Linked DNA regions of Homo sapiens: region 1 is linked to region 2. A link means that fine-mapping ties the variant in region 2 to the plasma level of a protein whose gene starts in the linked region. Region 2 holds a variant in brackets. A gene starts in the other region. All regions are shown on their forward strands.

Region 1 (2,906 bases), not on the chromosome of region 2:
CTGGTTACAAAAATAAACTCGCTTCTTTCCCAGTTCACCTGTATCTCATCATTGGACCACGAGAGCAAGCAGCTGGACCCTGTTCCTCCGGCAACGGCATCAATCTTACCACCAACCTTGGCTCTTTGAGGGGCTTGGTATATTAATATCACTGGCATCAGTGGGAATATGTGGGAGAAATGGAAGCAGTACTGGTAGAGAAAGAAGGAGAAGTGGCAGGATTGAGGTGCATGGCAGGCATTCATGGTGTCTTTCATGTAGTTTATAAAGTAGTTTATAAAGTAGCAGAAAGATAAAGAAATGACAGTTACAACATGGTAACATAAAAATTAGTAAAATGTGACATAAATTAGATATTAATTTTGGTTTGGCATAGCAGAATGCTCTGTCTGCATAATTTTATTAGATCTTCATTACAATACCACACCCTCAGATGAGGACAAATAAAGCCCCAACCTCTGGCCTTACATCTTAAGGTGTGTTTTCTCAAAATTTTCTGGGTTCCACTTTGGTGGTGGGAATGGCTGGAGCCAGCAGTACCACGTGGCCGGGGAGCCCTGAGCTGGTCCTGTGCCCATATGGACTCCGCTTTCTATTTCACCCCTTCATGGTTCTTTCTTACCCTCTTCCTTGCATGTCGGGCCCACTCGATGCCCCAAAGAACTCCAGGACTTCTGCTCACAAATGAAGTTGTCCTGAGGTCCTGTGGCTGAACCCTGGATCCAGAAAGACAGCCTTGGAAACAAATTACTACTCCTGTAGCCAGTACCTTACAATTACGTATTTTTGAATGATTTTATCGGATTTGATTGCCAAAGAATCTTGCAAAAACAATTTTTTCCCCAAGCTACACACCTTATGGTTGGTTGTGTTATTTATGTTCCCATTTTAGATGAGAGGACCAATATCCTAGATTAAAAATGTCAAATCCAAGATTACACAAACAGTGAAAATTGAATCCCAGGTTTTTCAAAAGACACTCTGATTTTAGATCTTAAGCCTATTATTCTATCCAAAGGCTCAGAGAAGACATGCTCTGAACATACTCAAAGTAACTGACACTGGAAAAGGTAACAGAGGTGTGAAAATCTTACCATAGTAGATGTGTGAGTGGGCTGGGGGCAGGTGAATTCCAGAGAAATGTGGCACTAAATGTCATGAAGCTGACTCTGTATTATACCAGAGTGGCCTCCAGATTGCTTTCACAACTGGGTAGTTCATCAGCTAATGTGATTCTCCAAACTTTAAATGATTAGAAAACTGGGGAAAAATGTAGAAAACCAGAGGAAAACACTCCTTCTAATCCAAATATAAATTCTTCACTTCTTTTCAATGTTCTTCCAGGAGAAGGATTCGTTGGGCTCTTTGCCTTCTGCTTTTATTTCTGTGCAAGGGTTTATGCAAGAGGTACTTGAGAATGCTGTACTGTAGAGCTTTGTTTCTCATGGGAACACACGGGGAAGTGGAAAACCCTCCAAATTGTTTGGTGAGAAAACATAACATTTATCCCTTTCTTTGGTGGGGTGAGTCAAGTGGTAGGGACTAGAATTCAGGTCCTCAATGGGCATATAAATATGTGTGTGCAAAAGCAGCCATCACACTTTGTATGGCAAGTGGAACCACTGGCTTGGTGGATTTTGCTAGATTTTTCTGATTTTTAAACTCCTGAAAAATATCCCAGATAACTGTCATGAAGCTGGTAACTATCTTCCTGCTGGTGACCATCAGCCTTTGTAGTTACTCTGGTAAGTAACTGGAATACATCTGGAATATGTGACATTTCTTTACTTTTCTGTTAATAAGAGCACAACTAGTAAGCCTTGCCTCACTGACAGTGGAATATGGTGGTAGGAATTGTATTTTTTTTTATTTTACTTTTAACTGACACATAATAATTGCACATATTTGCAGGGTTGGAAGAAGTTTTGGAATCACAGAAAATGGTGATGTTGGAAAGTATTTCAGATCCCCACCATCTAAGCTCTAGCCCAATATAAGTATTCTAATACATCCTACATAGGAAGTTAGCCAACTTCCACGGAGGGTCAACAAAGCACATTTCACTGCTGGATATTGGTCACCATTCGTTTTTCTTATTTTCCTCAATTTTGAGTTAAAATTTGACTTTATAATTTCTTTTGTGCTTTTGAACTATATGGAGTCATTCTTGCTATCATCTCCAGTTATCCAATTTGCTAGCTTGGTTCTCCTGAGATAGCTACATTCATCTGTTTATCCACTCAATGGATATTTATTGAATGGCTACAATTTGTTGGGCACTGGATAGGCATTGGAAGATTTAGACATGAAGCAGTCATAAATATTGTTCTTAAGGTGCTACTCTGGTAGGATAGATAGGGCTTCTGCCTAAGTTACTATAATTCTAGACTACTGTAAACGTACTGTGAGATATCCAGATAGAACTCTTTTAGTGTATTGGTGGGTGATTAGTTTAATTTTCAGGTAAGGGTATAGAAGCTGGCTTCTTGGAGGAGAATGGGAACTGATTTATTTTTTTGGAAGGAATCATTGTAACTATCAGGAAGACAGTGTGGGCACATGGGAAAAAGAGATTTCATGATAGCCACTGCTCATTGAGAGAACAGAAGGCTTTGAAGATCTTCTCCCAGGAAGCTGTAAACACATACAGAGAAGATATTTACCAAAATGTCTGAAATAAGAAGTATGGAGATTAATAATGAAAAATTGATTGCCGCCCACACCTACAATGGCAACTTTGGCTTTTGATGTTTATTGAATTTCTGAAGGAATTTGTAACTTCACCAGTTTTGGATATTTCACTGTTCTCTAATGTCCAGGGACAGGTATCTATGGGCAAAGTGGCAGCAGAAAGGAGGTGGGGAAAATAAATACCGCCCCCTCTGGGTGAGAATTTTGGAGGGACA
Region 2 (2,906 bases):
GGTCCTAAGAAGATCTCCCGGGTCCTTTGAGAAGCAGTTAAGGAAACAGTGTGCCCTCCATCATATTCTGTTACCGTATTTTATTCGGACTCCAAAGGAAAGTGTCGCTTGGGGGAGGGGGAAGCACTTTGATGAGCGGCGGCCGCGGCCCCTTTTCACTCAGCGGGCTCCCCCTTCGTTCTCCTCCTCCTCACCCAGCGCCCGGTCCGCTCTCGGCGCCCGACCCCGCAGCCCGGGCAGCGCGAGTGCTCCCCACTGCGATGCGCCTGGAGGCTCCTTGACTTGCCCTCACACTTAATCCTGTGCAAACTTTTTACCCCGCCTGTCGGGGTGGGGGAGTGGGGGAGATTAGAAACAAGGGGTAGAAATTCCTCGAAAGGGAATAAAGTGCCTAATTTTCAGGAGGAGGTGCCATTTAAAAGATTCGCCTAGCTTAGAGTTGGAACGAAAACTCTTTTTTGCACTTTTAAAAGTCCACCCAGGTAGACGTGTTTGGGAAGTTTTTTCGGGTGGGAAATGGGCTTCGCCCGTACGAACAATCCGGGGAAATCGCCTCAAGGAGGATCCTTACGCAGCATGTGGAAAAAAGTTGAGGGCAGGGGTCTGTGGCCACATTTTCCATCAAAAAGTCCCTGTTAGAGGCAGTCTAAGAAAGAGAGAGAAAGAGCGAAAAAGAAACTTTCCTATCAAAATGTTTCAATTAAGAAGTAGGGTGTACGTGTGAGGGGAAGAGGACGCTGGGCTCCAACGTTTCAGTAGAAGCGCTTAAGACTTGCAAACACCCTTGGTGGGGACCTGGAACCCCGGGAGATGCCGACGAGCAAGCAGGTAAGTGGCGGCGCCCTCCCAGTGGGTGCTCTTCCCAGGCGCGAGAGTCCGGAGGGGCCGAGGAGAGATCTGCACGCCCGGAGCTGCTCCCGCGCTCTGCAAAGTAGCCTGCGCCGGCACGAGCAGCCCGCGGCGTCGGTCTCAGGTGGCGGCGCCGGGGAAGAAAACGCTGGGGCCCGCGGCGCCGGGAGAGGGGCCGAGGCCCGGGCTCCTCCAGCCCGCCGCCCCCGGGTCCTGGCGCCCACACCCGAGCGGCTGAGCCCTGTAGCGCGCGGGAGAGCGAAGGAACCGGTTCTCCAGCACCTCGCCTCCTCCCTGCCACTCCCTCCGGAGCGCCGAGAGCGCGAGAAGGGCGGGGGCGCCCAGGGCAGGCCTGGAGACCCACGGCCCCCTCCGCGGCCAGGACTCGGGCTCTCCGCTCGCCTTCCTCGCCTAGCTCTGCGCCGCTTTTGCCAGCCGAGTCCCGGAGTTAGCGCGCGACCGGGGCGGGGCGGGAGGGCGGGGAGGGCGGGGTGTGGGGGGCGGGGGAGGGCGGGGGCGCGCGGAGGTAACCCC[C/G]GGCTCGCGCAGCCATTGCCCGGCTCCCTGTCACTCAGCCCGCGCGGGGCCCCCGATTGGCGGCCTAGCCCCGTTACGCACTCGCCTCGCGTTCACATACCCGGGGAGGGCAGTAGAAAGGTGATCAATCTTCATCAGGCTACATTTCCAATCACCTAAACAACCGAGCAAGACAAGCCACTCCGACAAGGTAAATCGCTTGATTTATTTAGTTTGCAAAGTGACTCTGCAGGACTTCCCAGTCCCCACTGCCTCCACGTTGCACCGGGAGTGCCGCGGCAACGCCGAGCCACCTCCCAACTCTGCCCCTCGAATTCCCCCCCTTGCGGCCCCTCGGCGCGATCCCAGGCGAGGCAATGTCCTGAGAACGTGTGGGGCTTAGCAAACAAAGTGTCTGTGCAATAAAGTGAAACCCAGAAGGACACGCACAAAGCCATTGAAAAAAAAGATAGAGGTGGGAAGAAGGAAGTTGGGAAAAGAAAGAAACCTGGGGGTCCTAGACCAGCCGCCAGGGTAATTCCAGTGCTGCTCTGTTTTGCAGGTTGGCTGCCCGGCGGGTCTCTGTGAGAGATCCAGGTAGATGGTGAACGGCCCCGGCAGCTGAGGGCAGGTAAGGAGAAAGCCGCGGGGCCACCCCGGACTCCGGGAGCGCGTTGGTTACCCTTATCTCCCCCTCCTCAAATGGATCCCGGCTTCCCCGGTCCCCAGCAGGTGGTCGGGGCTGTGGGAGCGGCCTGGCTCCCCTCTTGGTGAGCCGAGGACCCCGGGGCGCTGTCGCGGCCCGCAGCCCCCTCCCCCGCCTCCTCCGAAGTAACCAAGCTGAAGTGCTAAGTTTGGAGAAAGTCTTTGAAAACTCACGCTGCAGCTTCGCAAAGCCGTCGCAGCTTTGAGTCCCATTTTCCTTCGGCCCTAGAGCCCTGGCTGCTTCCCTTCCGGTCCCCTTCCTACAAGCTGGACTCCCTCAGCCCAGGTCTTGGGTCCCAGAAGACGGGGGCGGGAACGGGGCTGGGGGGAGCTTCTTTAGCTCTAACTTCTCTCCTTGAACGTCCTAGCCCGAGTCCCTGGCTTGCTTCACAGCGATCCCGCTAAGCGGGGTGTAGCGATGGCCCCCCAGGGCCCCAGGCCCAGTTTCCAGCGCCCCTCCCTGACCCCTGAGAGTGGCACCCCGGGTTCCCGGCAGCGGCGGGGGCGAGGCTTCGACCTCCCAGCTCGGGTCTGCGTGGGCTACGCCGCTGAGGCCTAGTTCTCTGTTCTCGACCGTGTCCTGGGGCCGCGGGTTCAGCTACAAGGATGGCAGCACGCGACTTGCTGCCCTCCGGCTTCACAAATCCCCGAGACCCTTTGAGGTGCTAGGCCAGTCACCCTTCACCCCCTGCTGGGACCCTGCGGTCCGCAGCCCAGACTGGGCAGAGAGAAGGCCGGGTGCGCGCTGGCAACGAAGGACGCTGGCCGCAGCTGAGGCGCTCCCGACCTCAGGCCGCATCTTGGGGTCGCCCCCCTCTACAGTGGCCCCTTCGGCGTCC

Which allele goes with the higher level. Alleles are on the strand shown, and positions count from the first base shown. The strength of an association depends on the size of the effect and on how common the allele is.
In carriers of allele G in region 2, the plasma level of the protein whose gene starts at base 1,598 in region 1 tends to be lower than with C alone (weak association).

The links. PIP is the posterior inclusion probability: the model's chance that the variant is causal. Protein levels are from antibody-based Olink assays in UK Biobank. Linkage for the fine-mapping came from a reference panel and not from the study's own genotypes, which makes the PIPs less certain.
Region 1: it holds the start of SCGB3A2, and the variant in region 2 is fine-mapped to the plasma level of the SCGB3A2 protein (UK Biobank, PIP 0.93).

The regions. Positions count from the first base shown.
Region 1 is chr5:147,877,114-147,880,019 of GRCh38, forward strand. It overlaps SCGB3A2 (secretoglobin family 3A member 2), which reads left to right and starts at 1,598. Exons shown (of 3, transcript NM_054023.5): 1 at 1,598-1,745. The coding sequence starts at 1,691.
Region 2 is chr2:63,049,325-63,052,230 of GRCh38, forward strand. OTX1 (orthodenticle homeobox 1) reads left to right here and starts at 1,506. Exons shown (of 5, transcript NM_014562.4): 1 at 1,506-1,573; 2 at 1,925-1,993. RefSeq lists enhancers at 1-644, 1-7, 8-755 and a silencer at 872-1,531. The variant C/G (reference allele first, on the strand shown) is at 1,384.